Homo sapiens: one gene and its partner. The protein of the gene in region 2 purifies or fractionates together with the protein of the main gene of each other region. This does not show direct contact. Each region holds a gene or a part of one and is shown on either strand. Other genes may lie near its edges. The genes, in order: ZSCAN18 and ZNF215.

Region 1 (3,823 bases), on a different chromosome or scaffold from region 2:
GATTGTGAGGTTCTGATGAGGGAAGGTTCTGTGCACACACATTATGGAGCTCACAGTTTGTTTTGTGGAGACAGGTTCTCTGCAAGGTGAACAAGCCTCTGGCGTCCTAAGAAAGCCAAAATTACATGCCTGCAGGACCACACCTCTGTCCATGCACCAAGTAGAGCTCTGTGCCTCCATTGCCAGGGGGTAGAGCTGGCGTCACGCCTCCCATCAGGAGAGGCTCCAGAACAGGGGTTAGCGTACCCACCTGCAGGCCAGCAGTGACCTGTTTTGTTTGTATTCATTAGAGACAGGATCTTGCTGTGTCGCTTATGCTGGAGTACAGTGGCACAAACATAGCTCACTGCAGCCTCCAACTCCTGGGATTAAGGGGTCCTCCCACATTAGCCTCCCATGTAGCTGGGACCACAGGTGTGTGCCACCACGCCTGGCTAATTTTTTTTTTTTTTTTTTTTTTTTTTTTTTGCGACAGGGTCTCACTCTGTTACCCAGGCTGCAATGTGGTGTTGTGATCACAGCTCACTGAAGCCTTGACCTCCTGGGTTCAGGTGATCCTCCAACCTCAGTCTCCAGAGTAGCTGGGACCACAGGCATGCACCACTGTGCCTAGCTAATTTTTCTATTTTTTGTAGAGATGAAGTTTTGGTATGTTGCCCAGGCTGTTCTTGAGCTCCTGGGCTCAAGCTGTCCACCTACCGTGGCCTCCCAAAGTGCTGGGATTACAGGTGTGAGCCACCACACCTGGCCACCTGTTTTTGTAAATGAAGATGCATAAGAACATGCCAAACCTGTGGGTACGCACAGGGCTCTGGTTGCTTACTTGCCACGAGGCAGAGTTGAGTAGTTGAAACTGAGACTGTCTGGCCCTTTATATCTGCTATTCTCTGTTCCTGGAGGATGAATAAGAGGATGTATTTCTTTTTTTTTTTTTTGAGACAGAGTCTCACTCTGTCGCTCAGGCTGGAGTGCAGTGGCGCGATCTCGGCTCACTGCAAGCTCCGCCTGCCGGGTTCACACCATTCTCCTGCCTCGGCCTCCTGAGTAGCTGGGACTACGGGCGCCTGCCACCATGCCTGGCTAATTATTATTATTTTTTTTTTTGTATTTTTAGTAGAGATGGGGTTTCACGGTGTTAGCCAGGATGGTCTCGATCTCCTGACCTCGTGATCTGCCTGCCTTGGCCTCCTAAAGGAGAGGATGTATTTCTAATCCCAAGGGAAAGAAACCCTTTTTAAGTGGGTTTCTGAACTCCGAAGTCCAATTTAAAAAATGGTTGAAGGCTGGCTGCAGTGGCTCACTCTTGTAATCCTGGCACTTTGGGAGGCCGAGGCGGGTGGATCACTTGAGGTCAGCAGTTCGAGACCAGCCTGGCCAACATGGTGAAACCCCGTCTGTACTAAAAATACAAAAATTAGCTAGGCATGGGGCAAGTGCCTCTAACCCCAGTGACTCGGGAGGCTGAGGGAGGAGAACTGCTTGAACCCAGGAGGTGGAGGTTGTGGTGAGCTGACATTGTGCCACAGCACTCCAGCGTGGGTGACAGGGCGAGACTCCGTCTCCAAAAAAAAAAGTGATTGCATTAGATAGTAAGAAACATTAGGACATTACCTGTGACCAAAAGACAGCGTGGAGTGAAAAGACAAGCCACAGATGGGGACAGTAGCAAGATAGAGCCAGACAGGGAACTCGTTAACTGGTTGACAGAAAGAGCTGTAAAGAAAAAGTCACGGGAAAGTGGGCAGTTTACCCGCCCTCAGAGATTAAATCATGAGAAAGCGCTCAGTCACAGAGCAGGCAGATGCTTGGGTCTGAGGGTCCTCTGGCAGCAGGTGGAGTGTGTGAGGAGAGAGGGCACCCCGGTGGGGGCTGCCATAAGTAGGTGACGGTCGTGAGGTTGTCCCCTGTGCCCTAGCTATCCTGCTTCTCCATATGTCCTTTAAATAGATCAGAAAGGACCCCACAGAGATGGACATGAGGGTCCACAACTGCCAAAAACAAATGAGGCACAGCCAGCATACCCCTCAGCAGAACTGCACTGTTTGCACAGTCCACACACACTGAGCCAGCTCTGCCCAGGCCAAGGGACCTGCCTGTGAAGAACCCTTACTCTCCTGGGTATGCATTCCAGTGGGGGAGGCGGTCAGTAGGGAGGTAAAAGGCGGGGGCAGTGAGCGGGTGTCAGGTGGGTGCGTGCAAGGAGTGCAGAGGAAAAGTCTCCCGGAGGGGCCAGTTGAGAGCTCAGGCCTATGAGGTAACAAAAGGGTGGGGGTGGGTGCAGTGGCTCACGCCTGTAATCCCAGCACTTTGGGAGGCCCAGGCAGGCGTATCCCTTGAGTCCAGAAGTTACAGACCAGCCTGGGCAACATAGTGAGATCCCTGTCTCTACAAAACAAATTAAAAATTAGCCAGGTGTGGGTGATGTGCACCTTTAGTCCTAGCTACTCAGGAGGTTGGGGTGGGAGGATCACTTGAGCTCAGGAGGTTGAGGCTGCAATAAGCTATGATCATGCTACTGCACTCCAGCCTGGGTGACAGAGTAAGACCCTGTGTTTAAAAAAAAAAAAAAAAAAAGTAGAGGTATCGTGGTGGTGGTGATGATGGCACGGCATGGCTCTGTTCTGCTTGAGGTAAGTGGAAGCTTGTGTAGAATGTCTTCCAACAGCACTTAAGAGTTCCGCACTTCCCTTTAAACTCTGGTAGCCACAGAGAGAGAGGTTGATAGTTGACTCTCTGCAAACTTCTGGTTCTTTTTTTTTTTTTTTTTTTTGAGACAGAGTCTCGCTCTGTCACCCAGGCTGGAGTGCAGTGGCATGATCTCAGCTCACTACAGCCTCCACCTCCCAGGTTCAAGCGATCCTCCTGCCTCAGGCCTCCTGAGTAGCTGGAATTACAGGTACCCACCACCACACCCAGCTAATTTTTGTATTTTTAGTAGAGAGGGAGTTTCACCATGTTGACCAGGCTGGTCTCGAACTCCTGACCTCAGGTGATCTGCCTGCCTCGGCCTCCCAAAGTGCCGGGATTACAGGCGTCAGCCACTGTGCCCAGCCCTGTTTTTTTGTTTTGTTTTGTTTTTTAAACAGCTTATTGAGTGTAATTTACATACTGTGAGGTTTACCTATTTAAAGTGGACAGTTCATTGGTTTTTAATATGCAGTACTCACCGTTGAGCATTTTCACCAACCAAAGAAGAAATCCTGTACCCATTAGCAGTCCCTCCTCATTCCCCCAAACCCCAGCCCCTGGCAACAGCTGATCTACATTTTGTCTCCATAGATTTGCCTGTTCTAGATGTTTCATTTCTGTGGAATCACACACCACACCCCACCCCACAGCGGTGAGGTCTTTGCGCCCCATATTCTGGTGGAGCACTGTCAGAGCAGAACTTGACGACCTGAGAAGGGCTCACAGCACCTGGCCTGGTGTGGTTTACTCTATGGTTTTCCCTATAAAACTGGGCTTGCTGCGGCTGTGGGAAATCCCCTTCCAGCTGTCTCTGTGGACCTTCAGACCCAGGCGGTTCCTGGGAGAAGGTGGACAGCTGCAGTTCACACCCTTGTGTGTCCATAGCCAGTGACATGAGAGCCCGAGGCCGACTGGAGGCCTGGACAGCTGTGACCCGCTGGGTTCTGTTTAGTGAGCTCATTGTTGGTGCACAGTTACAATCAAGAGAGTTCATCCTGAATACTGGCTTCACTTAATGATAGGGCTGCCCTGTATGTGGGGATTCAGCTGAGGGTGGGGCACAGGTTGGCAGGACCTGAACTCTCTCAGTCATTGTGGTCTCCCCCACCCCCCACCCCCCATTGTCCTTGCTCCT
Region 2 (3,823 bases):
CCTGCCTCAGCCTCTTGAATAGCAAGGACTACAGGCATGTGCCACCATACTTGGATAATGTTTTTTTTTTCTTTTTTTTTCTTTAGAGACAGGGTCTTTCAATGCTGCCCAGGCTGGTGTTGAACTCTTGGCCTCAAGTGATCCTCCTGCCTCAGCCTCCCAAAGAGTTGGGATTACAAGTGTGAGCCTGGTCCTGAGATCTGTTAACTTTATTCAGGTCTGTACACTTTGTGGAATGTCAATCTGCTCAATTCCATAATCTTTAGGACAATCAATACAATGTTGTTCCTTGTTCTTGACATTCTTGGAAATACCTGAGGTATCTTGGAAAGGTGCAAATCTCTCCAATCAGCTATCCTATTTATTGCTCTCTCTGAATGTCCTTTTCTTCCCTTACTTCTTCCCTGCTGACCTCCCCTTCTTGAAGTTTTACCGTCATGTTTTCTGAAACCCTCATTCCATTCAAAGAAAAATCTATATACATTCTCAAGTTCTTTACAGACTCTTCCTTCTCCCTTGCTAAATGGATCTTGGCATCATCAAAGGCACCTTTTTCTATCCTCTAAGCACTACGATCTTGGAAATTGTTCTGATCTACTTGTACCTCCCTTCCACTTCCTAGTATTTTCTCTCATGCAAAAATATTTCTTACTAGTCTATGCCATTTAGCTATACTGTTCTTGATGCTGTAATATATTAAGCTATTGCGCATTCATTTTTTCAACACATATTTACTATCTCCTATGTGCGAGATACACAAATACCTGCCCTCAGAGAGCCTAATGTACTGTGAATGACCAACACTAAAGTAATTGTACTAGGCCAATAAAAACTTCAGTTACTTGCTTCACATTGTTGCTTTTCACCCCAAATCCTGACAGTCTTTTAATAGGTTGCTTCAACACTGACACAGACACCCCTTCCAGCAACCCAGACTGATAGACCTTTGACTTTCTTATCTCTAATGACCATCAGCAAACAATCTACTTCCTTGCTCATACTCTGGTCTTTATTACTTAGAACTATCCTGCCATGAGTATAAAATTGGATAAATCAATAGCTAAATGCATCTTCCTATCCTTTCAATTTTTACTTCCTTGCTTTTTGTATATTCTCCAACTTTTATCAGAGTCCCATTACACTACATTGATTCTTTAATTTTCTCCCATTCTATCGTGGCTCTAGTGAAGTCACTTCATTCTCTATTAAGCTTAGAATTTAAGTTTAAAAAAAGGCAAAATTCACATAATATAAAATTCACCATATTAGCTATTTTAAAGAATACAATCCAGTGGTTTTTAATACATTCATAATGTTGTACAATGATCACCACTATCTAATTCCAGAACATTTTCATTACCAAGAAAGAGCCCCATATTAATTTAGGAGTCACTCTCATACACACTCCCTTTCCTTATACTGTCTCTACGAATTTGCCTATTCTGGACATTCCACATAAATTGAATCATATAGTATGTGACCTTTTGGGTCTGACTTCTCTCACTTAGCATGTTTTGGAGGTCCATCCATTTTTTTTTTAACATGTATCAGTACTTCATTCTTTTTTATGGCAGAATAATACTCCACTGTATGTATATAGCAAAGTTTATTCATTCATTAGTTGATGGACATCTGGGTTGTTTCCACTTTTTAATGTGAATATGTGTCTTCAATTTTCTGGGGTATATGGTAATTCTATGTTTAATTTTTTGAGGAACCACCAAAGTGTTTTTCACAGTGGCTGAACCAGTTTATATTCCCAACAACGATATACAATTCCAAACAATTTCTCCACATCCTAGCTAACCCTATTCGTTTTCCTTTTGTAATTATTATAGCCATCCTAGTGGGTGTTGTTATGGTTTTGAGTTGCAATTCTCTAATGACTAATGATCCTGAACATTTATTCCTATACTTTTTGGCCATTTGTATATCTTCTTTGGAGAAATATCTATTCAAGTCCTTTGTCCATTTAAAAAACTGTTCCTTATCTTGTTATTGAATTGTAAGAGTTCTTTATATTTTCCTGATATTGGACCCTTATCAGATATATGATTTTCAAAATGTTTTTTCTCATTCTGTAGGTTTTTCGCTGCCTTGATGGTATCTTTTGATGCACAAAAGTGTTAATTTTGATGGTCTAATTTATCTATTTTTTCTTTTGTTGCTTGTATCTTTGGTGTCATAGCTAAGCATTGATTACCAAATTTAAGGTGATGAAGAGTTATTTCTATATTTTCTTCTCAGAATTTTATGATTTTGGCTCTTATATTTAGACAATTGACCCATCTTGAGTTAATTTTTGTACATGATATGAGGTAAGGCCCCTACTCCAATCTTTTGCATATGGAAATCAAGGGGTCCCAGCAATATTTGTTGAAAAACTATTATTTTCTCATTTAATGCCTTGACACCCTTGTCAAAAATTAACTGGACATAGATGTATGAGTTTATTTCTGGACTCTTAATTCTATTCCAGTACGACATAGCTTTGATTATTGCAGCTTTTTAGTGAGTTTTGAAATTGAGAAGTATACATTCTAAAACTATCTTCTTTATGAAGGCAGTTTGACTATCTTGGGTCCTTTCCAATTCCTTATGAATTTTAGGATCAGCTTGTCCATTTCTGACAAAAAAAAAAAAAAAAAAAAAAAAGCAGCTGAGATTTTGATAGGGATTGCATTTGAATCTGTAGATTGCTTTGGGGGAGTGTTATCTTTATGATATTAAGTTTTCCAATACATGAACGCAGGATTTACTTAGGTCTTTAATTTCAACAATGGTTTGTACTTTTCAGCAGACAAGTCCTACACCTCTATTTTTGACATATTATAAATGAAATTATTTTCTTGGTTTCTTTTAAGGGTTGTTCATTGCTATAGGCACATAACCTATTTTTGTTGACTTTGCATCCTGCAACTTTGAGTTTATTAGGTCTAATAGTTTTTTACTGGGTTCTTTAGGATTTTGGATATATAAGAGTATAACATCTGCCAGTAGAGATAGTTTTACTTCTTCCTTTCCAATCATGATACCTTTTCTTTTTTTCTTGCCTAATTGCACTAGCTAGAACGTTTAGTATGACATTGAATAGAAGTGGCAAGAGTGGACATTCTTGTCTTGTTCCTGATTCTAAGAACAAAGCTTTCACTTTTTCATCAAGTTTATCAAGTACAATGTTAACTGTGGGTTTTTCATAAATGTCCTTTGTCAGGCTGAGTGAGTTCACTTCTAGTCCTTTTTTTTTTTTTGGTCATAAAAGGGCATTGGATTTTGTCAGATGCTTTTTCTGCATCAATTGAGATAATCGTGTAATTTTTCCCCTTTCACTGTATTAATATGATGTACAGCACTGATATATTTTCATTTGTTGAACCATACTTGCATTTCTGGGATCAATCCCACTAAGTCATTTTGTATAGTCCTCTTAAAACGCTATTGGATTTGGTTTGCCATTTTTCTTTTGTTGTGATGTCTTTGTCTGGCTTTGGCATCAGATTAATACTTGCCTCACAGGATAACTTAAGAAGTGTTCCTCCTATTTTTTGGAAGAGTTTGAGAATACTGGTGTTAATTTTTCAAAAGTGTAGTAGAATTTACCAGTGAAGCCATATCATCTTTGAGTTTTCTTTGTTGAAAGTTTAAAAATAACTAAACCAGTCTTTTGTTATTGCTGAGTTGAGTTCAGATTTTCTATTTCTTCTTCAGTCAGTTTTGGTCATTTGTGTTTTTGGAATTTGTGAATTTCATCTAAGTGCATCTAATTTGTTGGCATTTAATTGCTCCTAGTATTCTCTTATGAGCCCTTTCATTTTATGCAAAG

The links.
Region 1: the proteins of ZNF215 (region 2) and ZSCAN18 purify together in Homo sapiens (co-immunoprecipitation; 2 studies listed by BioGRID and IntAct, with this or other methods). This does not show direct contact.

Annotation. Positions count from the first base shown.
Region 1 is NC_000019.10:58,091,523-58,095,345, reverse strand, and holds part of ZSCAN18 (zinc finger and SCAN domain-containing protein 18), read left to right. Parts: intron 1-1,947; exon of another isoform or gene 1,948-2,118; intron 2,119-2,561; exon of another isoform or gene 2,562-2,630; intron 2,631-3,823. UniProt on the Homo sapiens protein: May be involved in transcriptional regulation.
Region 2 is NC_000011.10:6,936,319-6,940,141, reverse strand, and holds part of ZNF215 (zinc finger protein 215), read right to left. Parts: intron 218-3,823; exon of another isoform or gene 127-217; intron 1-126. UniProt on the Homo sapiens protein: May be involved in transcriptional regulation.